Linked DNA regions of Homo sapiens. The protein of the gene in region 2 purifies or fractionates together with the protein of the main gene of each other region. This does not show direct contact. Each region holds a gene or a part of one and is shown on either strand. Other genes may lie near its edges. The genes, in order: C12orf43, PLCD4, WDR70, ATAD3C and UTP25.

Region 1 (5,927 bases), on a different chromosome or scaffold from region 2:
GATGTAGGAGGGACTGTCGCTGCTTCGTGGGATACAGTCTTCTTACTTGGAACTGAAGGGGGCGGCCTATGACTTGGGCACCCCCAGCCTGGGCCTATGGAGAGCCCTGGGACCGCTACACCACTCTGGCAGCCACACTTCTCAGGACACAGGCCTGTGTAGCTGTGACCTGCTGAGCTCTGAGAGGCCCTGGATCAGCGTGGCCTTGTTCTGTCACCAATGTACCCACCGGGCCACTCCTTCCTGCCCCAACTCCTTCCAGCTAGTGACCCACATGCCATTTGTACTGACCCCATCACCTACTCACACAGGCATTTCCTGGGTGGCTACTCTGTGCCAGAGCCTGGGGCTCTAACGCCTGAGCCCAGGGAGGCCGAAGCTAACAGGGAAGGCAGGCAGGGCTCTCCTGGCTTCCCATCCCCAGCGATTCCCTCTCCCAGGCCCCATGACCTCCAGCTTTCCTGTATTTGTTCCCAAGAGCATCATGCCTCTGAGGCCAGCCTGGCCTCCTGCCTCTACTGGGAAGGCTACTTCGGGGCTGGGAAGTCGTCCTTACTCCTGTGGGAGCCTCGCAACCCGTGCCAAGTCCAGGTCCTGGTGGGGCAGCTCCTCTGTCTCGAGCGCCCTGCAGACCCTGCCCTTGTTTGGGGCAGGAGTAGCTGAGCTCACAAGGCAGCAAGGCCCGAGCAGCTGAGCAGGGCCGGGGAACTGGCCAAGCTGAGGTGCCCAGGAGAAGAAAGAGGTGACCCCAGGGCACAGGAGCTACCTGTGTGGACAGGACTAACACTCAGAAGCCTGGGGGCCTGGCTGGCTGAGGGCAGTTCGCAGCCACCCTGAGGAGTCTGAGGTCCTGAGCACTGCCAGGAGGGACAAAGGAGCCTGTGAACCCAGGACAAGCATGGTCCCACATCCCTGGGCCTGCTGCTGAGAACCTGGCCTTCAGTGTACCGCGTCTACCCTGGGATTCAGGAAAAGGCCTGGGGTGACCCGGCACCCCCTGCAGCTTGTAGCCAGCCGGGGCGAGTGGCACGTTTATTTAACTTTTAGTAAAGTCAAGGAGAAATGCGGTGGAAACTTCTTGCTTGTCCACAAATCATTCAGATGGGGTTTGGGCAGGTAGCGGGAGGCTGGGGCAGGCCAGAGGCCTGCGAAGAGGAGACAGGCTCCAGCACCCACGCTCTCACACCCCACATCTCTGCTTTTCTTGCTCTGCTGAGACTCTAATGACAAAGCCAGATTTCATCTTAACCTCAAGCTTCTACTTTTTAAAAAAATTTTGTTTTGGAGACAGGGTCTCACTGTCACCCAGGCTGGACTGCAGTGGCATTATACAGCTCACTGCAGCCTTGAACTCCTGGACTAAAGGGATCCTCCCACCTCAGCCTCACAAGCAGCCTCACAGGCGCTCACTACCATGCCCAACTAATTTTTGTATTCTTTTTTTTATAGAGACGAGGTTTCACCATGTTGCCTAGGCTGGTCTGGAACTCGGCTCAAGTGATCCACCTGCCTCGGCCTCCCAAAGTGCTGGGATTACAGGTGTGAGCCACCATCCCTGGCCATGAGCTTCTACTTCTTTTCTTTTTCTTTTTCTTTTTTTTTTTTTGAGATAGGGTCTTGCTCCATTGCTTAGGCTAGAGTGCAGTGGCGCAATCTCGGCTCACTGCAACCTGCACCTCCTGGGTTCAAGCGATTCTCCCACCTCAGCCTCCTGAGTAGCTGGGATTACGGGCGTGTGTCAACATGCTCAGCTAATTTTTGTATTTTTAGTAGAGATGGGGTCTCGCCATGTTGGCCAGGCTGGTCTCAAACTCCTGGCCTCAATTGATCCACCTCCTTGGCCTCTCAAAATGCTTGGATTACAGGCATGAGCCACTGCACCCGGCCACAAGCTTCTACTTCTTGCAGAATGCCTTTGTCCCATGAAACCTAGTCCACGAGTGCTATGACACTTCCTGAAGTCTTGGGTGGGGTGAACGCACAAATCCTGGGGGTGTAGAGAGGAGGAGGATGTTTACTTAAAATGTCTTAAGGTTCAGCATTGACAGAGAGGCAATATCCAAATCACTCTAAGTTTTGTTTTGGGTCCTCTGACAATTGAGTTTCCATAATCTGGTCGGCTCAGAGACACCATCATGTGTGGTATATTCACAAATGCAGACAAAGAAAATTCTAGAAAGCCAGGGGTGAAAAAGCTCTCCTTTCTCAGACGATTCTGTGAAGTCTATGTGGGCTAAGGAGAGAAGAACAAAAGTTTCTCTGGGCCTTGGCCTCTTGGGGATCCCTTCTCTCATTTTCTAAAAACTGTTTCTCACACCAGGCTAAGGAGGTGGTGGGGAAGGTCTCCCTTCCCCTGCCCACCTCAGACAGTTCTAGGGAGATGGAGGTTTCACCACTTGGCCACTAGTCTCAAATAACTGGAAGGTTCCTTTTTTCCTGAGGTCATGAAATGTTCTGGAACCACAGCGCCCCCGCCAGCCCTCCGTGGGAGCACAGAGGGGCAGGCCTTGATTGGTCTTCTCACCCTACAGCCACTTTTTTGGCCCAACTCTCGAGCAAGCCTTCATCACCATCAGGGTCTCATGGGCAGTCTGGGTTTGCCAGCCCAGTCCTTGAACTTGGAGAGGGAGGTGGGGCTTGGAAATGCCTTGTCCCCAGGGTGGGGGGGACACCTTGTCCTTGGAGCTGGCTGAGCCCTGTGCCCATGGCTGGGTTCAGTTTGCAGGTATAGCTGTAGCACTCTTTGCTGGTGGGAATGGAGAGGTCTCGCTGGCCTTCTTTGCCTTTTTCTTCTTTTTGGTCCCAAGCGACACCTGGTCCCCGTTGAGCTCACCTGACTTCTGCTTCTGGACTGTGGCCATGCTGGTGGGGGTGGTGGCAGCGACAGCCGAGTCGACACTGGCCACCTTCTTGGCTTTCTTTTTCAACTTCCTTTTCTTCTTTGCCTCCTTCTCCACTGTTCCAGGGCTGTGGATGGCTGACTCCTGTAGGATGTCGGACGCCGACACAGCTGCCTCCCGGCACCGCCGCCACTCCTCGTCACTGTCCTCACTGCTGCAACGAGAGGGTACCCTGGGTTAGCTGGAGTCAGGACACAGCCCCAGAGCTGCCTCTCGCTGTCCTCCCTTGGTCCAGGTCACCAGAAGGTGGCCGCAGAGAGAGGCAGGTAGTGAGTTCAGGCTTGGGAGTGAGGCCAACCTGGCTTCCAATACTGGCTTCTGGGCGTAGCAGCCTTGTGACCTCCTTAAGTGACTTAACCTCTCTGACTGTATCATCTCTAAAACGGGGATCTTAACAGAGTCCAGGCCTCCCAGGGATGTCCCAGGAGGCAACTATGATCAAGTGAGGTGTCTGGCCCAAGACAGGTGCTCAAAAGCAGTAAACATCCAAAGCTGCCGCCAAGAGGGCTTTCCCTCCCGCTGAGCTCATGATTTCTCCAGCTGCCTGACAGGGCCACTGCCTTGGCCTGGTCCTGACTGGAGTCTGCTTGGCTATTCCAGGGAACCCACCAAGACAGAAGAGGAGAAAAAAGGAGGGGACGTGAGGAGAGGTGTGAGTTCTCACCTGGAGCTGGAGGGCTGTCGCTTTCGGCGGGGTTGGGGAGACTCTTCCTTCTCACGGCCTCCAGGGACAGATGTGAAGAAAAGGCGGAAACCTAAGATTCAATGGGGCAGAGTCAAACAAAAACAAAACAAAACAAAAAGAAACATAAAAAAATAAAAAATAAAGAAACAAAAAAGAAAAAAATTTTAAAAAGGAAAACGAAAGAAAGAAAAGATAAAGAGAAACAAAAAAAAAATTTTAAGAAGACACAAAATAAAAAAATTTAAAAAAGAAACAATAACAAAAAAACCCAACCAAGCAAACAAACAAAAAAAACAAAGGAGCAGAGTCAGCACCCCCAGATGCCAGCCCCTCCTCCCAGGTGCCAGGTGCTGAAGCTGCCCCGCCTCTGCCCTCAGGAGCTCCTGGTCCAGAGGCAAAGACCCAGGAATCAGTCGTCTAACTACAAAGTGATTCTGCATCTGCCAAGGGTCATGCTGATGCCTGATGGAGCCAGTGGAGGGCGCGCTGGAGCAGGAGCCAGCAGCCACATCAGCTCAGCAAGCCCTCAGAGGCTTCTGGAAGTCAGCACTTGAGCTCCTGACCTAAGGCAGCCTTCAAAGTGGCAAATGTGTTGGTACAGGACAGACGCAGATGGGCGAGGCTGTGGAGGGCAGCAGTAAAGTGCTCCTGCTCAGGGTGACACAGACGAGGCCGCCTCAGGCAAATGACTTCGTTTCTCAGGGCCTCAGTCTCCTTGTCTGTACATGGGGTTCAATCATAATACCTGCCTCACCACAGGGGCTGAGCAGATGAAAGAATGGTGAGGTGGCCCATGCCTGTAACCCCAGTACTTTGGTAGTCTGAGGCGGGAGGATAGCTTGAGGCCAGGAGTTTAAGACCAGCCTGGGCAACATGACAGAACCCTGTCTCTAAAAAAAAATACAAAAATTAGCCAGGTGTGGTGGTGCACGCCTGTAGTCCCAGAACTTTGGAAGGCTAAGGTGGGCAGATGGCTTGAGGCCAGGAGTTCAAGACCAGCCTGGGCAACATAGCGAGATCCTGTCTCTAAAAAACATAAATAATTAGCCAGGGGTGGTGGTGTGTGTCTGTGGTCCCAGCTACTCAGGAAGCTGAGGTGGGAGGACTGCTTGGGTCCGGGAGGTTGAGGCTGCATTGAGCTATAATTGCTCCACTGCACTCCAGCCTAGGTGGCAGAGAGAGTTCCTATCTCAAAAAAAGAAAAAAAAAAAAGAATATACCAAAACTGTTTCGCCCACCTCCAGACACACATTAGGTGCTTAATAAATGATAGCTTCTATTAAGTATAACCACTCACCATCATCCTCCAAAGCGACTTTCTGTACCTTAGCTTTTGCTGGCTCCTTTGCTGCTTCTGAGATGGTAATGAAGCTACAGGGAGACGAGACGGTTGATTTAAGATGAGATTTTTGGATAACGACAAAAACAAAATTCTTTTTCAAGTGGAGGGGATGGGGTATGTGATTGTAAATGCAAAAGCGAAAGCGTGCTGGCCTAGTAAGAGGGCTGATGGTCTGGTTATAACATGCTGACCAGCCTCTGCCACGCGAACTGCAGTGCTTCATTTCTTTAAAGCCCACTTTATTCCAGTAAGTGTTGAAGAAGTTTTAAAGACATAGTAAAACAAGATGAGGCCAGGCATGGTGGCTCACGCCTGTAATCCTAGCACTTTGGGAGGCCAAGGCAGGCAGATCATGAGGCCAGGAGATCGAGACCATTCTGGCTAACACGGTGAAACCCCATCTCTACTAAAAATACAAAAAATTAGCCGGGCATGGTGGCGGGCGCCTGTAGTCCCAGCTACTCGGGAGGCTGAGGCAGGAGAATGGCGTGAACCTGGGAGGCGGAGCTTGCAGTGAACTGAGACTGCGCCACTGCACTCCAGCCTGGGTGACAGAGCAAGACTCCATCTCCAAAAAAAGAAAAGAATTTAACAAAATGAATGCAATTTCAAATAGGACAAAGAGATATAAGGGCAAGAGGAACAGAAAGACCTAGAAGTGTAGTCAGGAAGTCCTATACACTTGTTAGAGAGAGGGCATACATTTTGCTCTGAGCTTCCTAGCAGCAAGCATGAAAAGGGAAATATGACCAATCTAGAAAACTGGTTCAGAGGACAGCTTCTGGAGCAGGGCAGACCTGTTTTTAAATTTTTTTTTTTAATTAAAAGAAATTGGAGATAATTGTAGACATGCAGTAGCAACAAATAATGCAGATGTTCCATAGACCCTCCATCCATTTTCTCGCAATGGTAACATTGTGCCTCGCTATAGTACAACATCACAACTAGGAAATGCAAATTGATCCAATTCATGGACCTCATTCAGACTTCAGAGACCTGG
Region 2 (6,176 bases):
AAATCCTCTTTTGATGGAACTTCCCCTGTACTCCTCCACCCTCCCCAGACCCAGAGCCAGTCGTTCTTCCCTCAGACCTTCTGGCCTCACCAGTGTCCCCATCCTGGGGCTACTACCTGGAAGGCATACTGTGCTACTGTGGCCACGACATCTTTGAACAGGATGCGGGAGGTCAGGGTGTGTCCGTGGTAAACGACAGGTTCCCCGCTAGGTCCATCCCATACATCCACCTCCACGCAGCGGCACCCCCGCTTCAGGGCCCTGAAAGAACCCCATCCCCACCGAGAAATAGGAGAGGTCAATATCTGATCTTCTACCTAGGGACTCTCCCCACTCTGGAGAGAACAGTGCTCACCAGCACTTACCCATCCAGACCCCTTCAAGCTACATCTGCATAGAGCCTTCTCCATCCATGGGGACACTGCTGCAAGCTCACGCTGATCTCTACCCATACTTCAGCCCACCCGACTCACAGTCCTTCCATAGCAATCCATCACACATTGCCTCATGATGCATCTGGTGTTCTGGTTTTACTTATTTATTTATATTTACTTTTATTTTTTTGAGACAGGGTCTAAATCTGTCACCCAGGCTAGAGTGCAGTGGTGTGAACATGGCTCACTGCAGCCTTGACCTCTCAGGCTTAAGCGATCCTCCCACCTCAGCCTCCCGAGTAGCTGGTACTAAAAGCACACATCACCATGCCTGGCTAATTTTTGCATTTTTTGTGGAGACGGGCTCTCACTATGTTGCCCAGCCTGGTCTCGAACTCTTGGGCTCAAGCGATCTCCCTGCCTCGGCCTCCCAAAGTGCTGGAATTACAGGCATAAGCCATTGTGTCCAGTGGTGTTCTGGCTTTATATCCCTATACAACATCCTGGTTATTCAAACTGTCAGTAAATTTACACCTTAATTCCTCAGCTAGACTTCCTAAGGTGGAAACTATATGTTCCACTCATCTTTGTATCCCTTGAAGCTACTAGTTCAGTTGCTGGTAATAGAAAGATATCTTGACTATTCAATCTAATCCATGATTAGTCACAATAAAATCAGAACTGCTTATTAGCTATTGACATATGAATTATCTCTTCACAACAACCCAGACAGAATAGGCACTGTTACCATCCCTGTTTCACAGATGGGGAGACTGAGGTATAGAAGTTAAATACTTAGCCCCAGAGTACCAAGTGAAGGAGCTAGGATATAATTTCAGATGGTCTGACTCCAGAACCTATATTTTTAACTCCTATTCTCTATTGCCTTCCATTTAACAATCTGTTTATTAATTTGTTAAATATAAATCTGTCAGGGCCTCTGAGTTCCAGGAGAGTTTCATAGCTTGTGAAAGAGAAGTTCCATTGACCCATAGGGTTTCATTACCATTCTCCCACCAGTCTTCAATATCTCCTCCAAGTGTCTCTGGTATCCAGGGCTCCTCAGCCCCTAAACCCCCACAACACTGTCCCAATCTGTTAGACACTGACAGCTCCCCTCACTTTTCTACATGGTCCCTCTCATGAGTTGGACCCCTTCTCTACCACCACTGCACCGTATATATCCCTCGACGCTGCTCTGGCCACAAAGCTGGTCCCCCACTAGGTAGGTGTTATGAGAAGAGCAGATGAAGTAGTGGTTCAGGGGTTGAGTCATATCCTGATAGATGGGGAGGCAGGCTGGGTTGAAGATGTCTCCATCCTTAGAGCAGAGGTAGCTGAGGAAGCCATCCATACTCAGCACATGCCGCAGTTTGCCTGGAGTGTGGACAGGGGAACACTAGGTGAGAAGCTCTGAATGGGAGCATCCCAGCACACCTACAGTCCATCCTTCCTCCCACTCCATCCAGAGCCCTGCCTTTCAGATGGCACCCATTCCCAGCCTTTAGATCCCAAACTTGCCCCACCTAGTGTGTATCATTTCAATCATTCCCACCCTCAAAGAATGTTAAAAGGAATCATTAAGATCATTCAAGGCTGGGCGCGGTGCCTCACGCCTGTAATCCCAGTACTTTGGGAGGCTGAGACGGGCAGATCACGAGGTCAGGAGATCGAGACCACCCTGTCTAACACGGTGAAACCCCATCTCTACTAAAAATACAAAAAATTAGCCGGGCACGGTGGTGGGCGCCTGTAGTCCCAGCTACTCGGGAGGCTGAGGCAGGAGAATGGCGTGAACCCGGGAGGCAGAGCTTGCAGTGAGCCCAGATCGCGCCACTGCACTCCAGCCTGGGGGACAGAGTGAGACTCCGTCTCAAAAAAAAAAGTTCATTTGAGTCCAGTGCTATCCAATAGAACTTCCTATGATGAGATAAATGTCTTTTTTTTTTTAACTTTTTTTTGGTCTTTTTTTATGCTATAGTACTAAAGAGAAAAACGTTTTATTCTGCAGTGTCATATATAGTAGCCTCTAGCCACATGTGGCTACTGAGCACTTGAAATGTGGCTTGTGTAACTGAAGAACTAAGTTTTAAATTTTATTAGATTTTAGTTAATTTAATTTAATTTATTTATTTATTTATTTTTGAGACAGAGTCTCACTCCGTCTCCCAGGCTGGAGTGCAGTGGCAGGATCTCTGCTCACTGCAAGCTCCGCCTCCTGGTTTCACGCCATTCTCCTGCCTCAGGCTCCCGAGTAGCTGGGACTACAGGCGCCCCCCACTACACCCGGCTCTTTTTTTTTTTCTTTGTATTTTTAGTAGAGACAGGGTTTCACCGTGTTAGCCAGGATGGTCTCCATCTCCTGACCTCGTGATCCGCCTGCCTTGGCCTCCCAAAGTGCAGGGATTACAGGCGTGAGCCACCGTGCCCGACCTAGTTAATTTAATTTTAAATAGCCAAATGGAGCTCACAGTTACTATAATGGACAACATCCAAAGGGCTAATTTTATAGATGAGGAAACTGAGGCCCAGAGAGAATCAAAGTCAAAGGCTTAGTGACATGGCCAAGTTACCTGTATTTTCTTCCTTGGGCTGTGTACCTGTGACTAACTATGGCCTGAGGGTTTCTTCTTACTGTCCATGTTCCCATATGATGTTTTGAGGATCATTTGTCAACATCTCCTTAGACTACACTCCCATTGAGAAAAGGGCCCTGTTAGTCCTTCCATAGCTCCCTCCAATCTCAGTATGGGCTTTATACAACAACAACAACAATGACTAACAGTTATCAAGCACTCACTCTATGCCCAGGGCATTCCACGCAGCATCTCACTCATGTTCTCAGTAACGTGATGAAGTAGATGTAATATAATCTGCCATGAGAGGTTAGGTAACTTGCTCCAGGTCTCATAATCAGTAACTGTAGAAGCTGGGATTTGAACCCAGGCCGCCAGGTGTCAGAGCCATGCCCTGCACCACTGGGCTGTGCAGTCTCACTGAGAATAATGTTGCTACAAGGAGGCTCGCCTGGAAGGTGGAACAACATGACTCTCATGGCCAGCTTCCTTGCTCCAGGTTTCACAAGGCCTGGAGATTGTGAAGAAGGACAGGAAGTTGGGCAGGAAGTTTCCTTTTTTTTTTTTTTTTGGGAGACAGAGTCTCACTCTGTCACCCAGGCTGGATACAGTGGCACAATCACAACTCACTGCAGCCTTGCCCTCCAGGCTCAAGCAATCCTCTCACCTCAGCCTCTCAAGTAGCTGGGACTACAGGAATGTGCCACCAAGCCTGGTTATTTTTTTTATTTTTTTATTTTTAGAGATGGGGTCTCACTGTGTTGCCCAGGCTGGTCTTGAACTCCTGAACTCAAGCAGTCCTCCTGCCTCACCCTCCCATATTATAGGCATGAGCTACCATACCTGGTGGAAGTTTCATTCTTTTTGTTTGTTTGTTGGTTGGTTGGTTTGTTTTTGAGATGGAGTCTCGCTCTGTCACCCAGATTGGAGTGCTGTGGTTCGATTTCCACTCACTGCAACCTCCGCCTCCCGGGTTCAATCGATTCTCCTGCCTCAGGCACCCAAGTAGCTCAAATTACAGGTGCCCGCCACCATACCCAGCTAATTTTTATATTTTTAGTAGAGAAGGGGTTTCACCATGTTGGCCAGGCTGGTCTCGAACTCCTGAACTTAAGTGATCCGCCTGCCTTGGCCTCCCAAAGTGCTGGGATTACAGGCATGAGCCATTGTGCCCGGCCAGAAAGTTTCATTCTTGACAGTAATAAATCACTCAGGTAAATTTGCAGTTGCCAGATACTTTTCATGTGCATTATTTCATTTTATCAATTATTTTACAAATGAGGAAACTGAGTTAGTTAGGTTAAGTGACTTGCTCACAGTTATCAGTTAATAAGAAACACAGTGGAGACCTGAGCCCAGGTTTTTTGACTGATACTACTCTCTGTAGCCAGATAAAGTATCTGATTGTCAAGTTCAAGGGAAGGAAACACCAAGAGGGGTCGGGGTCGAAACAAATGTAACTGATGTTTACTGGATTCTGCACAGGTAACAAAAGATCCTATTTCTTTTTTCTTTCTTTTTTTTTTGTTTGAAACAGAGTCTTGGACTGATGTTTACTGGATCCTGCACAGGTAACAAAAGATCCTATTTCTCTTTTCTTTCTTGCTTTTTTTTTTTGAAACAGAGTCTTGGACTGATGTTTACTGGATTCTGCACAGGTAACAAAAGATCCTATTTCTTTTTTCTTTCTTTCTTTCTTTTTTTTTTTTTTTTTTGAAACAGAGTCTTGGTCTGTCGCCCAGGCTGGAGTGCAGTGGTGCAATCTCAGCTCACTGCTGCAACCTCTGCCTCCCAGGTTCAAGCAATTCTCCTGTCTCAGCCTCCCGAGTAACTGGGATTACAGGCTCCTGCCACCATACCCGGCTAATTTTTTGTGTTTTTAGTGGAGATGGGGTTTCACCACGTAGGCCAGGCTGTTCTCAAACTCCTGACCTCAGGTGATCCTCCTGCCTCGGCCTCCCAAAGTGCTGGGATTCCAAGCATGAGCCACAGCGCCCGGCCTAGAGATTCTATCTCTTAAACTTTTAACTCTCTTCGATTTCATTTTCTGAAATGATTGCTTTACAACCTCCATTCTTTTTTTTCTTTTCTTTTCTTTTTTTTTTTTTTTGAGACAGAGTCTCACCATGTCACCCAGGCTGGAGTGCAGTGGTGTGATCTCGGCTTACTACAGCCTCCACCTCCCGAGTTCAAGCGATTCTTATGCCTCAGCCTCCTTAAGTAGCTGGAATTACAAGCGTGCACCACCATGCCTGGCTAATTTTTATATTTTTAGTAGAGACAGAGTTTTACCATGTTGGCCAGGTTGGTCTCGAACTCCTGGCCTCAGGTTATCTGCCCGGTCTCCCAAAGTGCTGGGATTACAGGCGTGAGCCACTGCACTCAGCCTACAACCTCTACTCTATTCTGAACACCCAAACAAATCTGAAATAACAGATTGTAATGTTTTCTGTTTGACTCTAAGTTTCATGAGGGCAGTGTCCTTGTCTGATCTAGGCACTAATGTATGTCTGGTGCCTAGCATAGGTCCTGACACATTATAGGAACTCAATAAGCATTCATTGAAGTAGTGAATAAATGAATGAATGAAAGGGAGTAAGAGTTTAGACCCAGAATACCTTGATCACTTGTCCAGCTCTCATTCATCCCATCTCTTATCCTCATTCTCAAGAGAGGCACCAACTAAGAGTCAGATGACCTGGGTTTGAATCTCAGTTCCTCTCTCATTAGCTGTTGACTTTGAGCAAGTCATTGAATCTTTCTAAACCTCAGTTTTCCTCTTTTATACAACTGACTTAATAACAGGACCCATTTCAACAGGTCATTGTATTAGAAAAGGTACGTAGATGCCAGGCACAGTGGCTCATGCCTGTAATCCCAGCACTTTGGGAGGTTGAGGCGGGTGGATCACCTGAGGTCGGGAGTTCGAGACCAGCCTGACCAACATGGTGAAACCCCATCCTCTACTAAAAATACAAAATTAGCCGGGCGTGGTGGCGCATGCCTGTAATCCCAGCTACTCGGGAGGCTAAGGCAGGAGAATTGCTTGAACCCGGGAGGCAGAGGTTGTGGTGGGCCGAGATCGTGCCATTGCACTCCAGTCTGGGCAATAAGAGCAAAACTCTGTCTCAAAAAAACAAAAAAATAGAAAAAGGAAAAGGTACATAGAGATATTAGAGCATTATGGGATATGTAGTAAAGGGCCAATAAAGATTACTGTTGATTT
Region 3 (6,176 bases), on a different chromosome or scaffold from region 2:
TGAATTAATGCTTCCACTCATATCTTGTTCTATCAGAGTGAGTTCTATAGAACCTAGTACATGGGGTTTCTGTTTACTAACATTAGCTTCATCTTTTTTCCCTTTAATTCTGTCCACGCTATCCCTCCCACCTCTGCCCTCTTACCACAGACAAAAATTAAAAACAGGTTATAGTTCTCACTGAGAACTTGTGGTTCTTTTCAGCCCCAGAGCACCACTTATTTTCCTTACCAGTAATGAATTCATAGGATCATAACTTCCAGTGAACCTTCTCTTAAACAGCTTTTCATTTAGGTTAATGTCAAGTCTTTGTATTCTGTATCTCTGTTTTACTTCTGCTGTTGTCCTGCTGTTTTATCTCATAGATAGGGAGACATTATTAAATGCCTACAAATGTGCATTGTTTCTGAAAAAGCTTTATGAGATTTGGATCTTTGTGAACTAAAAACAATAACCACCTGGTCTCAATCTGCTGTCCAGAGGGACATATTGTATGTGTGTAAGAGCATGAAATTCGCTTCAGTGGTAAGTGTAACTGAGTTATGTGGATTTAGCATTCCATGATGCCAGCCTCACGTGGTAATGGACCTGGGAAACCTAATTTTGTGGTTTCAGGGCTGTCCAGAAAGGGAGATAATGTCAGGAAGAGAACATCTTTTTTATTTTTATGGAGTATCACCCAGATAATAAGTGATGGAATGGAATTTTACTTCAGGAACACAACTTTATGGTTTAAAAGAAAATGTCTGAAAGTTAGAGGTAAACCATCAGGATGATATTTGATATAGTAGACTAGCCATCAAAGTACCAGCAGGATTGTTTCCATTTTTATCTGGCCTCTTTAGTCAACCACTGCGCTTTTCCTTTGCAGAGTGTTGTTCGCTGCCTGTGGCATCCAAAGCTGAACCAGATCATGGTTGGAACTGGAAATGGATTGGCTAAAGTCTATTACGACCCCAACAAGAGTCAGAGGTATTTCATAAGTATTGCCTGTTTTAGATGGATGACAACAACTGGGGGGAGGGATTTCCCTCCCACCCCCGCTTTTATTTATTTCCCACTTTGATGGAGATCCACCCATTTAGAAAATGCAGCTGGAACAAAGTAAAGCCTCAAACTCCTGGTATTGTGCTTTAAAAAGGATTTGAATATTGCCCTTGATCCACACTGAATTCAAAGCGAAAGTTTCCTGGGAATTTGCAGTTGTTTAGCTGAAATGTTGAGTGCAAGGGGGAAAAACGTTCTGCCCACTTTGCATACCACCCTGGACAGAGGCATTAGCAGTGATACATGTAAGAGATTTAACAAAGCAGGGAACTAACCACTTACAGGAAATGGAATCAGCTTGTCCATTTTGCTTCTTTCTTTTTTGGCTTCTAGCAGTTTGGATGTTTGGCAAGATTATTCTCTGTCCGCAGAAAGGGACAGCACAGATACGTTTCCCCTCCACCCCCATGCCCACCCAAGTTTCAAACTTAAGCATACCACTGTATTTCAAAAGTCTGAAAACGTAACTAGAGGTTCAGTCATTTCCTCAGTTATTTCCGTTTTGCTTAGGCACAAAGATGGATATGTGTCATCACCCAGAAAAGATGGTTTTGTTTCTCTCTCTTAAAGTACAGTGACTGATAAGCTTTCTTTAGAGTAAGACTTGGTTAACTAGCATTAAAATTCACATGTGAAATTTACTGGGGTCCCATATAAACCTGTTTTAAGGTCCCACATCCTTTGAGGAAAGGAAAGCCAGCCTCTATTAATGAATATTCATTGGCCATAATTTTGCTCTGAATAGAAGCAGACAGCCCCATCTTCCTTCAGAGCTTCCTGGACTAGAGTTGGAATCCTGGCCTTATACAATAAAGTATATTTATGGTATTTGAAAACAAATAGGATTTTATTTGTTTTTTAAAAAAGAAATTAAAAATGCTAATGTACTTAGGATGGGAGTCTGTTTCACTTGAGAAAATGATGAGCCTCATTTGATAGCACCCATTTAGAAGGCACTTTCTGTGGAAGCTTTGCTTTAAGAAATTTACTTATTTGTATTTGCTTCTCTTGAAAAGGATAACTCTGTACTACTAAGGAGAAGTGCAATGTTCTAAGCACATTTTTGGTTAATCCCACACATTCTTGGGCCATAGCCCCTCGGCAACACTGCCAAGCCAACTCAGTTCCAGACACTTGTACTCTTGTATTTGAAAAGTGGACATATGCCATTTGGGGTGTAGACCACCCAGGTTGCTTTAGTCTGAGACATAAACTAAAATTTTAACCCTGTGACCTTTAGAGTGAAAAGGTTGGGTAATTTTATTATTTAAGATCTTAAAATTTCACATTATTCCTATAGGTTTTGTAAACTTGTGTCCTGTTGCCCTGTTACCTCTCCAACCCTCTTGCTTGTTAATAACCACTGACTGACAGACTTGCTTTTCCATAAGTTTAAGCTTTTATCACTGAGAGCCCATCTGTTGCCATCCCTCAGAAAGTCAAGTACTTGTGTAGATGGAGTGCATGCACAGAGTATGTTCCTGAAAGTATCTCATGTTTTCAACATGAAATTTTCTGTTTCTAAGACCAAGTAAAGAAAATAATTTGCTTTTACACCCGTTAGGGGAGCAAAATTATGTGTGGTTAAAACCCAGCGGAAGGCAAAACAAGCTGAGACTCTAACTCAGGACTACATCATCACCCGTAAGTCGTTAACATGCCTCTCAATCATGCATCTCTCTTCTACTCTCATGTGGTTTTGATTGCATAGCTTTAGAGACAGAGAAAGCCCTCAGAATTCAGGCATATATTACAAAATTGCCCATTCATGTGGATAGGACTACGAGTCATGTAACAGCTAACCTCTGTGGCTTCTGTGACTCATCACAGGGACAGGGTTATTTCATGCAGCTTTCAACCCAAAAGGGAAAAGCCTGTTCGAGTCCAATACATTACTTTATAGCAGTTTTTTCAAGAGTAACAGTCTATTCCAAGTGTGAACAAGAAAGAGTGCTGGTCTTGGAATCAGGAGGCCTGGGTTTGTCCAGTTCCACCACTGAGTGGCAATGTGATGTTGAACAACTTAACTTTTAATCAGGGAAGTGTGGCGACCAGAGGAAGGGTCTCTTCCAGCTTTCTCTGAAATTCTATGACCATGTGCTAGACTGATCCACAGGAATTTGTATATAAAATTAACTACCTGGGGTATGAGTAGAAAGCTTACTAGGGCAGAGTGGTTTCTCTCACGTATGTCACACAACCTCATTAATCTGGCAGATGTGTGTTCCCAGAGCCACAATCTCAAACCTGCAACAGGTGACAGCTAGGAAAGAAATAATGGATGCTACAGCGATTATCATTAGTGGATGGCCCTGTGGACTTTATCAGTGACTCAGTCTGGAGCCCAGGGGGCGCTGTACTGCTGGGTTTTCTCACTGGTGGTGGGTCTCATATGAGACCAAGTCCCTTGGAGCTTATGACCAGTAAAGAGATCCCATGACACTTTTTGCAAGAGTAGAAGTGTTAAAGTCAGTGTCATAACTAGTCTAGCTCATGTAATTACATGCGGCCTACTTAAATTCCTCCAGTCGTTTGAAGTGAAAAGCTATTTTCCCCCTCCTAAAAATACTGTTGTGTTGTGTTGCCCAACTGAGTGACGGGTGGCTATGTTTCTCAGCTCCCCTGACTCAAGGCAGGCATGTTTTACTGGTGAGTGATATGGTCTGGCCTCAGTTGGCAGTATAGGTAGAAGGTAGGAGGGGATACTGGAAGAGGTTTTGAGGTGTTATAGACATTTTATTGATATTATAAATTCCCTTTAACCTTTCCCTTCCTTCCCCTGGTCCCCCGGGAAAAGTTTCTTTTAAAGGGGGTTTAATCTGCACGTAAGAGTCAAAAGAAACTGCTAGTACTTTTCTGGGGCAAAAAAAGGGAGTTATTTAATACTTCCCCTAATAACTCTTTCCTTTTCCCCTAGAATATTATACTGTTTTCCTTTTTAAATTCTTATAATCTTTTATATTCTGAAATTTAATTTTGACATTGAGTAAACAGTAACAGCAATTGAACGCATATTACTTTGGTTTTTATTTTCTTATTTTGCTACCATATAGCAGGAGGGATAAGGCCCCATTAAGTCCCCATGCCAAGAGATTTAGGCACCTCTTGCATTCATGGCAACCTTTATCCCAGTTTCAGTGGGATAAGTGTTCCTCCCTTCCGGTTACTCAGTGTTGTCAACTCCTCCTGAGAGGTGGTCACATTTCAGAAACGTGTGAAGTGATTCCAGTGTTTATGAGACATCTGAGGAAACTTCAGGGCTGACAGCAAGCTGTTGGCATTATTCACATTTGGGTCCTGTAAGAAAAAATAAGAGGCAGTCCCAATATGTGTTTCTTTTCAAAACCACGGTAATTAAGTTTTAACTGCTACCCATGGTTTGGGAGATGGGGAGCCTCACCGATGTTTCCATGACAATATTTGACAGTATTTCCTGAGTGCTGTTAGCTGCCAGGAGAGGTGACCAGTGAGTCTGGTCTCAAGCAAAATTGGCTAATTGGTTACAGTAAGACTGTCTTTTATTATCAGATCAAGACTGTCATTATGACTTCCATTTCATCTTTCAGTTAGTCATGCTTTAACTATGTTTTTGGATGGGAAGGTTATTGTTATAATGAAATTTTTCAAATGTGACTTCTTGTAGCTCATGCCTTGCCTATGTTCCGTGAGCCCCGCCAACGGAGTACAAGGAAACAGCTGGAGAAGGACAGACTGGATCCCCTGAAGTCGCATAAACCTGAACCTCCTGTAGCAGGCCCAGGTGACTGTGATCCAGCTAGTGACCTGCAGAGGGGGTTCAGAGGCAGGGTGGGGTAATTGATATAAAATTGGGAAGGTCTTTTGGGCCTGGATGCTTCTTTGTCTTCAGAGAGATTTTACTAGTGTTTTAAAAATGTTTTCTTTTTAGTAACAGAAAAGCTGATGCAGAATCCAGATGTATAAAGCTGATAAAAATTGAGCTTCTATACTGAAATAGGGAGGAAGACTGGGGCCCTTTCTGCTTGGTCTCCAACTAGAGTTTTCCTAGCTGGCCTCAGGGGAACTCGGGGGCTCAGTGGACCTTGGAACCCAGTGTTAAAACCACTGCTCTCAATATTGGCTTAATGTACAACACTGGGCACTTTGACCAGAATCCAGGCTGGATTAGGTTTCACACAAGGCAGAATGTGGCCATCATTTAGATTTGTGTTGATATCACTAGAAGATGAATAAAAGTCTTTAGAGTTTTTGAGAAGTAGGTACCAGAAGAAAGCCAAGCAGCACTGGCTAATAGTATAGCACGTACCTTGACTAGAATTTCATTTTCTGTTATCATCTGTGTAGTTTCTATTTGGTCTGCTCCTTCAGCATAGAAAACATTTTGCATATCTATCTTAATTATTTTTTTCATTTTTTTCTAACACCGTCCTAACTAAAGTTTCCAAAAAAGATTTTTTCTTGGATTATTGTGAACCCTTCTAACTATGCACCTTAGTCTCAAGTCACTCCCTTTCTCCCACCTCACTTCTATTTGTCTTATACACAGCTTTAATCCCTAACTCCATTAGCTTTTCATGTTGCTACAGCCTCCAAACCTTCATAAGCTTCCCACTGTCCAATTGTCTTTCCAGAGATTCAAGGTTCTGTACAGTCCAAATCAAATCTACCCCTGTAGCTTTACACCTTACTTCTTTCCTGCTCTGATCTTTTGAGATTACTGTTGGTTCAATCCTGTCCCCAAATACCCATTGAACTTTCTTCTTTCTGCATTTTTGTACTTAACCCATTCTGCTTATTGAAAATAACCTTCTTTACCTCCTAAGCTTTCACAAATTGGATCCATCTCTTTCATAAAGACCTGTTCAACCACCTGAGCCTGAAGTGCTATCTTCCTCTAAGTGCCATAATAGTTACTGGCCATACAAATTATCTCACAGTTAATTATTTCCTGCCTTATTTAGTTTCTTCTTATCTTGATTTATGAAATTAATCTTTTAGTGTTATTTGGCTTTTCATATGTTTATTTTATCTTCCTAAGAAGTCCTACATCTTTCTGAGTACCAGTCACTATACTAGCTGCTAGAGATCTAGTGGGGAACAAATCCCTGCCCTTAAAGAGGTTCCTATTTCATAGGGAGATTATAGTACAG
Region 4 (6,176 bases), on a different chromosome or scaffold from region 2:
GAGGTGTGGTCTCCCCATGGACTCAGGATGAGGGTTGCTCGTCCTCGGGCCCAGGCCTCTCCCCCTTCAGCCAGCGCATCATCTGCTGGTGCTGCTGGACAAAGTCTTGCACGCAGGCGTCCATCATGGCCTCGGTCAGGACCCCGTCCTTGGAGGCATACGCCGTGGCCTAGTGGGGAGAGAGGGAGCTGAGGGAGGCCGCCATGGGAACCCCCCACCCCAAATGCACGCCAGGGCCCTGAGGTGGGGAGGGACCAAACCAGGGGCTCCAGGATGGCCTGAGCGTGAAACACAGGCTACCCGCACCTCGGCAGAGCCCAGCACGTGTGTGGACACCGGGGGCAGCCCCTGCAGTGCCCACAGCCCTGCCTGCGTCCTCAGCACCAATGTTGCTCAATGACTTTCTAATAGAAAGCCCAAGGCGGAGCCTCACTGACGGCCGACCCAGGGCAGCTTCCCAGAGGCAGGTGGGAACTGCAGACCCTCTGCGTGTCTCAGCCGTGGTCAGGCAGTGCCCCCGGGTCATAGTGCACCTCAGACCCTCAGACCCTGACCCTCACAGGCCTCCAGGGCAGAGGCAGCCACTGCCCACCTTGAGGCACGTGGCTGGTGGCACCAAGGCCACCTCTGCCCCCACCTCCCTGTCCTCCTGGGCACAGGGCTTGGCATCTAGCATGTGAAGGCTGGAGCTGCTGGGGCTGTGGCCCTTGGTGTGGCTTCAGGCAGCCTCAGGTCCAGCCCTTCTGCCATGGACAGGTCACTCTCCATCCCAATGCCAGCAAAGGGCATGGAGTCCCCAAGGGGAGGCACCCATGGGTCAGGGTGAGGGTGTGGGGACCCCCACTGGGCGCCATGCTCAAGAGCGCACCAGGACGCCTGGAGGAAGCACAGGGCAGGGGACCCTTCCCGGACAGCTGAGCGGGTCCCTAGCCCCATCCCAGCTATGCCTCCCAGAGGCAGGATTCATCTCACGGGGTGCAGGGGCAGCAGCACACCATCCTCCCACAACACCGTCACCACGATAGAACCTGCCATGGGGATGACCACGTGGTGCCCGTCCCCTCTGCCAGCGCCCATCCCTCACCAAGAGCCACTGTGTGGGGAGACACTGACCGGAGCCGGACCACCACTGTGGGTCGGGGGCCCGGGAGCGCAGGAGACACTGACCGGAGCCGGACCGCCACTGTGGCTCAGGGGCCCAGGACTGCTCAACATCATTTTTGGTCTTGAGCCCACCCAAGAGAGGGCAAACAGGTGCAGGGACCCTCAGGGTCCACCCGAGTGGCTGCACCTCACCCAGGGCCCAGCAGAGGAAAGGGGGTGAGCAGATGCTCACGGAGCCACCCCTCCAGGAAGCACGGGACCTGGCAGGAGCCCACCAGAAGTGACAGCTAAATGTCACGTGGCCTCCTGGGTGGGATTCTGGGGCAAAACCTGGTCGCGGGTGGGTCCAACAGTGACACATGATGTTCACCACGTGGCAAGGTCCCAGGCCCAGGAAGTCTCTGTGCTACTCTTGCAACTTTTCTGGGAACCTAAAATCTTCAAACTATAAAAGTTGAAAGACAAGACCTGGACCTGATGTCTTCACATGTGAATTCACAAAACATTAAGAAGAATCAGTACCACTCCTCAAACTCTTGGACAAATTGAAGAACATTTCCTCACTCATCCTAAGAGGCCAGCATTACCCTCATATCAAAGCCAAAGACACCACAAGAAAAATGACATGCCAATATCCCTGATGAGCATCGTTGGAAAAGTCGTCAAGAAAATGCCAGCAAAACGAATTCAGGAGTATAATAAAAGGATTCCACACCCTGACCAAGCAGGATTTATTCCTGGAATGCAAGGACAGTTCAACATATGAAAATCAATCAATGTTCCACATACAAAATGTTCAACATACAAAAATCAGTCAATATTAGCAGAGTGGAGGAAGGAAACCACATGACCCTCTCAACTGTTGCAGGAAAAACATTTGGCCAAATACAATTTTTTTTTTTTTTTTTTTTTTGAGATGACATCTCCTTCTGTCACCCAGGCATCTCGGCTCACTGCAACCTCCACCTCCCGGGTTCACGCCATTCTCTTGCCTCAGCCACCTGAGTAGCTGGGACTACAGGCACCCGCCACCACACCCAGCTAATTTTTTATATTTTTTAGTAGAGACAGGGTTTCACCATGTTAGCCAGGCCAGGATGGTCTCAGTCTCCTGACCTCATGACCCACCCGCCTCAGCCTCCCAATATGCTGGGATTACAGGCGTGAGCCACCGCGCCCAGCCATTTTTTTTTTTTTTTTTTTTTTGAGACAGAAGTTTGCTCTTCTTGCCCAGGCTGGGGTGCAATGGCAGGATCTCGGCTCACCGCAACCTCTGCTTGCCGCATTCATGCGATTCTCCTGCCTCAGCTTCCCAAGTAGCTGGGATTATGGGTATGCACCACCACGCCCAACTAATTTTGTATTTTTAGTAGAGTCGGGGTTTCTCCATGTTGGTCAGGCTGGCCTCGAACTGCCGACCTCAGGTGATCCACCCACCTCACACTTTTATGATAAAAACACTCACCAAACCAAGAATTGAAGGACACGCCCTAAACACAATGAAGACCATATATCACAAGCCCACAGGTGACATACTCAGTGGTGAAAAACTGGCAGCTTTTCCTCTGAGTAAGGAACCAGGCAAGAATGCTTTACTGCTTCTATTCCACATACCACTGGAAGTTGTGGCCAGGGCCATTAGACAAGAAAAAGAAAAGTCATCCAAACTGAAAAGGGAGAGGTAAAATCACCTGTTCTCAGATGATATAATCTTATATGTAGAAAATCCTAGAATCCATATTGGAAAAAACAACCCTGTGACATCAGCAAAGTTACAGGATACAAAATCAACAGCAAAAACAGCTGCAATTCTACATACTAACAATGAATAATCTTTTTTTTTTTTTTTTTTTTTTTTTAAAGACAGTCTTGCTCTGTCGCCCAGGCTGGAGTGCAGTGGCACGATCTCGGCTCACTGCAAGCTCCGCCTCCAGGATTCACCCCATTCTCCTGCCTCAGCCTCCCGAGTAGCTGGGACTACAGGCACCTGCCGCCACGCCCGGCTAATTTTTTGTATTTTTAGCAGAGATGGGGTTTCACCATGTTAGCCAGGATGGTCTCAATCTCCTGACCTTGTGATCCACCCACCTCAGCCTCCCAAAGTGCTGGGATTAAAGGCATGAGCCACCGCGCCTGGCCCACAATGAATAATCTGAAAGGGAAATTATGAAACCATTTCCATTTACAATAGCATCCGAAAGAATAAAATACTTTGAAATTCACTTGACCGAGAAGGTGAAAGACTTGCACAGTGAAAACTGACCGGGCTCCGTGGCCCACACCTGAATGAATCCCAGCACTTTGGGAGGCTGAGGCGGGCAGATCACCTCATGTCAGGAGACCGAGACCAGCCTGGCCAACATGGTGAAACCCCGTCTCTACTAAAAATACAAAAATTAGCCGGGCATGTTGGCGCGTGCCTGTAATCCCAGCTACTCAGGAGGCTGAGTCAGGAGAATCACTTTAACCCGGGAGGCGGAGGTTGCAGTGAGTTAAGATCGCAACACTGCACTCCAGCCTGGGCGACAGAGCGAGACTCAGTCTCAAAAAGACAAAAAGAGAAAACCACACAATATTGCTGAGAGACATCAAAGCAACATAGAGACTAAATGCAATCCCTGTGAAAACCTCAATTATGTTTTACAAAAATAGGAAAACCATTCCTAAAATTCATATGGAATCTCAAGGGATCCTGAATAGCCCAGACTGGAGTTCAATGGCACCATCTCAGCTCACTGGAACCTCCGCCTCCAGGGTTCAAGTGATTCTCATGCCTCAGCCTCCTGAGTAGCTGGGATTACAGTCACACACCACCACGCCCAGCTAAGTTTCGTATTTTTAGTAGAGACGGGGTTTCACCATGTTGGCCAGGCTGGTCTTGAACTCCTGACCTCAGGCAATCCACCCACCTCAGCTTCCCAAAGTGCTGGGATTACAGGCGTGAGCCACCGTGCCCGGCACAAAAAGAAAAAAACTCTTGAAGGACAAAGTTGGTGCTGGGCGTGTTGGCTCACCACCACCGCTGTGAGCAGTGCAGGATGAGTGTCCTTATAAGGGACACCAGAGAGAGCTGAGTTGCTCTCTCTGCCACATGAGGACCCAGCAAAGAACACTCCACAGGGAGGGACCGAGCTGGCACCCTGACCTTGGGCCTGTAGCCTTCAGAGCTGTGGGCACACACGCCCCAGTGGTTATGGCAGGCCCAGCAGTCGACCACACTCCTGTTCTTTTTTTTTTTTTTTTTGAGACAGTCTCACTCTGTTGCTCAGGCTGAAGTACAGTGGCACGATCTCGGCTCACCACAACCTCCACCTCCTGGGTTCAAGCGATTCTCCTGCCTCAGCCTCCCGAGTAGCTGAGAATACAGGCATGCACCACCACCATGCCCGACCAATTTTTGTATTTTTAGTAGAGGTGGAGTTCGACATGTTGGCCAGGCTGGTCTCGAACTCCTGGCCTCAAGTGATTCTCTCTCCTTGGCCTCCCAGCATGCTGGGATTACAGGCATAAGCCATGACCAAATTATTCTTATTTTTTAAGACAGGGTCTCACTCTGTAACCCAGGCTGGAGTGCAGTGGCACAATCACAGCTCACTGCAGCCTCCGCCTCCTGGACTCAAGTGATCCTCCCACCTCAGCCTCCCAAGCAGCTGGCATCACAGGTATGCACCACTAGGTCTAGCTAATTTTTTTTATTTTTTGTAGAGATGGGTTCTTGACTTGCTTTCCAGGCTGGTCCTGAACTCCTGGTTTCAAATAATCTGGCTGACTTGACCTCCCCAAATGCTGGGAATACAAGCATCAGCCACCACCATGCCCGGCCTCTGCTTTCTTAGTTGTGGAAACAGACCTGGTCCCAAGTGGGGATGGCCTGGAACAGAGACCTCAGCTGACCCAGAAGGACGGGGTTTGAGATCTGGGGTTCTTTGTCACAGCGGCATAACCCAGCCTGTACTGACTAATACAGCTCCCTACATACCCCGGCTCCTACGTTCAAATCAAGGTAGTTGGCTACTTCATTAAGCTGTCACACATAATGTGCTGCTAGATCGAGTGACCAGATTGTCACACAGACTCTGTGGACCCCAGAGGCAGCGATGCCTGTGCATGGCCAGGGTGCCTTCTGCCCCACAGACCTGGTTTTGCTTTTCCAGCAACCCCCAAAGACCAAAGCTTTCTGGATGGCCGTGCCCACACTCCTGTGAGTCCCAGCTCCTTGGCCCTGGGGCAGCCATGGAGCTGCAGGAGGGGTGCCCCTGAGAAACAACTGGCTGTGGGACAATCAGAGGCCACAACTCCCACCCATGTGTCTGGGCCCGTCAAGCAGGACCAAGCCAATGGACTTGGTCCAAGAAACACAACGTCCCTCCACCCCCACCACCAAACTCACAAGGGGCCTGTCCTGATGACCATTCACACTGGGGGGTGCCTGTCTGCCAAGGTGAGCATCAGAAGCCTCCCGCCCCACCTGGCAGAGCCCGGGCTACTAGGAGGCCGCACTGGCTTCCTGACCTGTGACCGTCAGCCACTGACATGGCCCCACCCTTCTTGCTGGAGCAGGTGCACGCTGCTGCGTGGAGTGGCCCAACTGGGGCAGGGGCCCCGTGTCACATCTGTGCACTGAAAACCCCTCAACAGAAGCTCCCACGTGACACCGGTGCTGGGACAGGCCTGGCGCAACCAAGCATCTGCACAGCAGCTGGGCTTCCATCTGGGTGGGTGCACCCGAGCCTGACTCACCTGCCAGGACACGGCCAGCTGTGCGATCTTCCGGCATGACATGCCCTCTGTCAGCCGAGCGATCTCTAAGCACTTCCTCCCGTAGTCAAACTGGGCCAGCTTCAGACGCCTGGGGAAGGAGTTCCCAAGTGGGCCGGCCAAGGCAGCAGCTCCCACACCACGAGGTGGAGGCCGGAAGACAGGCAGCCAGGCGGACACCCATGCCAGATGCCCCCTTGAGAGGGACTCTCTACCTGTGACAGCCAAGTTCCGCCCCCTTCCTGACGCAAGCCAGGCCTGGGCTGAGCAGGAAGGGGGCGGCTGTGGGGCCTGGAGATGGCCGCACCCCTTCC
Region 5 (5,723 bases), on a different chromosome or scaffold from region 2:
CCTGCTCAGTAGTTAGTGCTTCTGTCTCATGGGCCACATTTTACTGCAAGGGGTGGGGGATGGAAAATGATGCAGTGTTTTTACTAGGTACTTTGTTATCTCATTAAAGTCCAGCGTTCTGGAACTAGGGAAGTAGGTGGATATAGGGCAAACAATAGCAGTCTCTTCCCTTCTCACACAGTCCCTCTATAAGGCTAGTGGGGATTACTCCATACTTCATAAAGATGAGAAAACTGAGAAGTGGTCGTGAGGACTTGTTTAGAGCCACAGAATGTCAGTGGTGATGTTGGTCCCAACACCCAGCTTTGAAAAAATGAGAGAACACAAAGAAACCCATGAACATCTGTGGACAAACACCAGCTGTGAGCCCAGGGCCACCTCTCCTTGCGGAATCAAAACTGGCAGATGAGAGAGGCTGCAGAGGTCAGTGAGGACGAAGGTGGCAGGGCACTGGGGCAGATGTTTCAGTGATGGTGCTCCATGCTCTGTGTCATTCCTTAGGTTGGCAAAAGGTAGACAGCTTTGGCCTTGGCTCAGCTGGGAGAACAGATGGGCAGGAATTCAGCACAACTCCTAAATCAGCCAAGCGGCAGACTGCCTCCTTTCCTTCTCTGGGTCAGCCAAGGCTACAGTTTCCACCTGGTCACAGCCAGCTGCAGAGGCCCAAGACTGAAGCCCATGACAGCTCGGCGAGGAGCACCTAGAAATGTGCCATCCCACACCTGACTGTGAGGGGCCATCAGGAGAACAAGCAAGGGCAGGTGTTTCTTCCAGCAGTGAGGGGACATCTGTACTGAGCTGCCCAGCAGGAGAAAGATTAGATTTCTCTGTGCAAAGCAAACAGCTCCTTATGGCAGTCACATACCTGTCCTCACTCCTTTTGAGCATAGGGCTATACTGAGAAAACCAGTTTGTTTGAAAAAGGCCTGGAGCTCTGTTCTTTCTCATCCCCTTTATCTACCATAGGAATAATGGCAACGTGACCAGAGGTGTAAGGGGAGCCTAGGACCTACTCTGAAATACATGTAATGCAAGTGGAGGCGGCAACTCCCCACATCTGAGGAGGGGAAGGTCCTCACAGAAGGGAAACAGGAACAAAGCAAAAGTAGACAGGAACATGTGTTTAGCTTTAGACACAGGACATAAAATGCAGTTTTGCTGCAGTTCTGGTGAGAGCACGTGGCATAGGAGGAAGACGGCTGAACGTCGCGGGGTTTGCTTGGGAGGAAATGACCAAGCCCAGAGGGAAAGAAGCGTTCCCTCTTTCCCCTTCCAATGCTTACATCAATTTTGGATTATCTGTGTATTTACTCCCCATTCATTGACTCTAATTAAAAGTTGACTGAAATCTGTTTAGAATTCTATGTAGCCAGGCTTTCAGAAAAGCTTTTTAAAATAAGTGTGGAGTAGAAATTTGGTAATGAAGATCACTACCATGCTCCTTTGAGAGAAAAGATGGGAAAGGGACTGGAAGGAGAGGATGGCTAGACGGAGGGAGGGCTAGCTGTGGTGGCCCCACGCTCCTCAGAAGCCGTGCCCTGAAAAGAGCCACTTCTGAGCATTCCACTGACATTACTTTTCCACGAAGCTTTGGGCACCTCAGGCCCCTGCAGTTGGACAATGAGGCTCTTCAGACAACTATAAAGAACTTCCAACTCTTGCTCCCTCACCCCAGGCCTTCTGTAATCTTGAGACCCTAGATCTGCTCACGTGGGCTTGGGAAGGCTGGTCAGATGGCCAATAGGGTCTGGCCCCACCTGCCTTTCCCTTTCCTCCTTCAGCAGCATAGCTCCTTGCCCTCACGAGGGCACAATCAGGGCTGAGAGCCTTCATGAGCCCCCCTTGGTCCTCTGGGGTATGAGGAGTCAGCAGGGACACATTCCCCATCTCCACTAGGACCATCTGTGCTCAATTATAAGCCCTTTGGAAGCAAGCAGAGGGCTGTTTAGCTGCTGCTGGTTCTCTATGATTAGCTTGTTCTTGTTTTTTGAACACTGCACGTGGTGCAGCCAGCTGTGAGAAGCATCCACGATTCAAAGCTTTTTCTCTCTCAAAAAGAAAAGTGCTAAGCTGGTTGTTTTAACTATGGGAAAAGAAAAAACATTTAAAAGTGTTACTTTCTGGGTAAGTTCCTTTCCATACCTTTTAATTCCACTGTTTCCAGGATTGGGACCATCCTTTGTCTATATTTCAGACCCTATATAGGCACTTGCTTGCTGCAAATGAGCCTTGTTAACATCAAGGTAGTGTGTAATTCCAGCTCACGCATCCGTATTTCAGTAGCCTCTCTTCTCGCTTATTGTGTGTTGAGAGAGACCAGATCTTCAAGGCATCCTTTTAATAAAACCATTGCAGAGACTCCACTCTGCAATGCACTAAGGAGCCAGGGCTAACTGCAGAGGCTTACCTTCTTTTCAGGTGCTGAGCCAGGAACAAAGCAACACTACTTTGTTCACACTTGAAATCCTCAGTGTTCTCTGCAGGCAAGAAGCAGTTGGCTGGGTTTGGCTCTATGCCAGCATGAAAATCACTAGGGGTGCTTAATAAAATGGTTATTTCTGGGGCTACATCATGGATTTGAAATCCAGACTCACATGTGAGTGGAGAGCCAGAGAAGCTGGAGATTTGGGAGTCGTGTGAATAGTAATAATGGAAACCACGAGATGAACTACAATTCACAGGCAAAAGAATATGGCAGTAGAAAAAGATGTAGGTAATTGGCCAGGCGTGGCGGCTCAGGCCTGTAACCCCAGCACTTTGGGAGGCTGAGGTGGGCAGATCACTTGAGGTCAAGAGTTTGAGACCAGCCTGGCCAACATGGCAAAACCCCATCTCTACTAAAAATATAAAAAATTAGCTGTGCATGGTGGCATGCGCCTGTAGTCCCAGCTACTTGGGAGGCGGAGGCACGAGAATCGCTTGAACTCGGGAGGCACAGATTGCAGTAAGCCAAGATCATGCCAGTGTACTCCAGCCTGGGCAACAGAGCGAGACTCCATCTCAAAAAAAAAAAAAAAGATCCAGGTAATTACAGTCCCTTCGCCTCACATTTCTGAATGAGGTAAATAAACTCATTTCTTATTCTCATAATATACAGGATCTATGATAAACAGCAGCACAATTACGCCAGTAACCACAGGGCATGCCTATAGATACAAAAAGTTCTTTGTAGCATGGGTTCGGTCGGCTTTTATCTAACTAAATTTTCTGAAATTTAGAAAACCATCTAAATATGGAATAAATGGTTTTACTTACCATGCTGAAGAAAAAGAAGTAAAAATGTCTAAATATTTAGCAGAAATATTACTTCAAAACTGATTTTACTTTTTGTTTTTGCTAAGTAATTTTAAGCGTGCCCAAGGATAAAAAAAATCTGTACCAATCATGGGTTATTACATTGAGGATAATGGGAGCCACTGTCTGAGAAAGGAGTTATCAATATGGAAAGAAAATGAGAAGCAATCCTGTGTTGTTGGACTAGAATTGGAGGTACTGGTGTGAATTCATGGTTTTCAATATATGGATATGAAAGTAAATTTAGATATTAATGTGAAGCAAATTTAGACAACGTGTGTACATATGTGTGTGCATACATGTACACAATTCCCAAGTTCTGACCACTGAGCCTGGGATGAGTGGCACCACAATAGTAAGCACTCCAATCTAACCTTTTATAATAATTTCCTACTAAAAGCAAGCAGGGCTGGAGTAGAGAAACCTGGAATGTCTCATTGTCAAAAAATACAGCAGTGCCCAAGTAGATGGGGGACATGTCAAAAGTACACAGGGGCTAACCTGAAGGTGCTCCCAGCGGCCATATTTGAGACCAGTTACGCATCTAAAGAAATAATGATGTAACAAACCGTAACCCATTGAATAAAAGAAGAAACTACGAGTCCATACTAGGATGAGTTGAATATCTCTTATCTGAAATGCTTGGGACCAGACGTGTTTCGAATTTTTTTGGATTCTGAAATATTCACATTATCCTTATTGGTGGGGCATTCCTAATCACAAACAATACCCTTAATTGTTTACAGGAAATATATACTAAAGTATTTAAAGGTGATAGGCCCACTGGGTTGGCAACTCACTCTCAAATGGTTCAGGTTCTGTACTTGGAATTTTTCTGTTTGAGAATGTTTCAAAATAAAAATGTTTTTAAAAGTGTAATTTCCTTTTTATTTGCATCTGTTTATGACTGAAAAAATGACTAGTTATTATGAAGACACTACTGTTGAAGATGGATATTTTAACATGGAGTTTCAACAAAATTACTTCTTGAGACAGAGCTGATGTGTTTTTTAAATAACGTGATTTTAAGCATATATTTGAACAAAACTAAAACATTTAGTATTATGAATATGAAAAAAGATCAGTAAATCAATGTACTCTTCTAGGCTGAATTAAGGTAGACTATTTAAGGTTTCAAAAAAGTTTGGCTGGGGCAGAATAAGTTTTACAAAACCCATGCCATCCAAAATTAAGATGACATGTAGCAGCAAGAAGTATTCCAATGTCTCATAACCAGTTCTCGCAAGCAATGTGTATTCCTTACTTTAAGGAAGTGTCAAACAAATAGAAAAATCTGGAAGAATTTACTAAGTGTAATAAATTAGAGGTAAATCGTAATAAAAGAATTTATGTCTCACAAAAATATTCACAAGTGGGAGTTTTCTTCTACCAACTTCTCAGAGTCCTTCTAGCCCCCTCTTCACTTCTGAAAGATGGGATTTACCAAAATCTGGTTTACATTTAACTTTTCAGGGACACATGACCTGAAAAGAAAGATGTCAGATAATACTGACATTGCCTCATGCACTTTCTTTGTATCAGTCCTTCTTCTGTAAGTAATCAGAATTGGGTCCAAATGGCATAGAATCAAACATTATGTATCATGCCAAATACCACTTCCTGCCCAACAAAATTTCATTTTTCTCCAGTAATGAAGAGGTGGACATTCTTGTTGGACTGTAGCATCTGTGCCGCCCGCTCCACACCAACCACGGCAGCTAACCTCTGGGCATCATATTTGGAGTAGAGAACAGTGCAGGTCCACGTGGCCTCTTCTCCTCTGTTGGTGGCTCTCAGCATATTACAGATTTCACTGTAAAAGTGTGGATATGTCGGCAGTTCATAGAAAATCAGGTTCCTGATGCCTTTTATTGTATACCTGTCAGAATTGGAAAGAAAGAGCTATGTCAACTTGAGAAACAAGTTCTAGAAAAACTACCTAGGAGTTGTACAGAGGCATAGTTCATGCTTGTTGCTTCCTGCTAATGGAGAAAAACAGTGGCACAAGTAACAGAACAAAAGTTATTCTAACTTGAGGTGGCAACATATTTGAATTCTTTTTATGACAACATATTCGAATTCCTAATATTTGGCTTAAGAAAATGATAAAATAAATACACATTTCTTGATCCTACACTGGGTAGGCTGAGGTATCATGGGAAAGAATAGTAGACCAGGATTTAAAAATCTGTCACAGAAAACTTAAAAAGCAGGCACTTAAAATGGAACATTAGCCTTATTATAATCAGGCAAAAAAGAATGGAGACAAGGTCAGACCCAGTACATAAAATAAGTTGTACAGATTGTAAATACACTCCCATTAGTCTTTTCTTGCCACTCTGGATACATGTTAACTCCATGGCAGACGTCCCAAGTTCATCCATTTACAAAACCCTGCCCAAGGACCCACTAGGCATCATGAGAAAGCA

The links.
Region 1: the proteins of PLCD4 (region 2) and C12orf43 purify together in Homo sapiens (affinity purification with mass spectrometry; one large-scale study listed by BioGRID and IntAct). This does not show direct contact.
Region 3: the proteins of PLCD4 (region 2) and WDR70 purify together in Homo sapiens (affinity purification with mass spectrometry; one large-scale study listed by BioGRID and IntAct). This does not show direct contact.
Region 4: the proteins of PLCD4 (region 2) and ATAD3C purify together in Homo sapiens (affinity purification with mass spectrometry; one large-scale study listed by BioGRID and IntAct). This does not show direct contact.
Region 5: the proteins of PLCD4 (region 2) and UTP25 purify together in Homo sapiens (affinity purification with mass spectrometry; one large-scale study listed by BioGRID and IntAct). This does not show direct contact.

What each region holds. Positions count from the first base shown.
Region 1 is NC_000012.12:121,001,439-121,007,365, forward strand, and holds part of C12orf43 (protein CUSTOS), read right to left. Parts: intron 4,957-5,927; coding exon 4,883-4,956; intron 3,656-4,882; coding exon 3,565-3,655; intron 3,055-3,564; coding exon of another isoform or gene 3,052-3,054; coding exon 2,715-3,051; 3' UTR 1-2,714. UniProt on the Homo sapiens protein: Plays a role in the regulation of Wnt signaling pathway during early development.
Region 2 is NC_000002.12:218,623,604-218,629,779, reverse strand, and holds part of PLCD4 (1-phosphatidylinositol 4,5-bisphosphate phosphodiesterase delta-4), read right to left. Parts: intron 1,752-6,176; coding exon 1,550-1,751; intron 262-1,549; coding exon 117-261; intron 1-116. UniProt on the Homo sapiens protein: Hydrolyzes the phosphatidylinositol 4,5-bisphosphate (PIP2) to generate 2 second messenger molecules diacylglycerol (DAG) and inositol 1,4,5-trisphosphate (IP3).
Region 3 is NC_000005.10:37,720,244-37,726,419, forward strand, and holds part of WDR70 (WD repeat-containing protein 70), read left to right. Parts: intron 1-871; coding exon 872-972; intron 973-2,611; coding exon 2,612-2,691; intron 2,692-4,690; coding exon 4,691-4,807; intron 4,808-6,176.
Region 4 is NC_000001.11:1,462,377-1,468,552, reverse strand, and holds part of ATAD3C (ATPase family AAA domain-containing protein 3C), read right to left. Parts: intron 5,954-6,176; coding exon 5,845-5,953; intron 170-5,844; coding exon 23-169; 3' UTR 1-22.
Region 5 is NC_000001.11:209,850,654-209,856,376, reverse strand, and holds part of UTP25 (U3 small nucleolar RNA-associated protein 25 homolog), read right to left. Parts: intron 5,174-5,723; coding exon 4,930-5,173; 3' UTR 1-4,929. UniProt on the Homo sapiens protein: Component of the ribosomal small subunit processome for the biogenesis of ribosomes, functions in pre-ribosomal RNA (pre-rRNA) processing. Essential for embryonic development in part through the regulation of p53 pathway.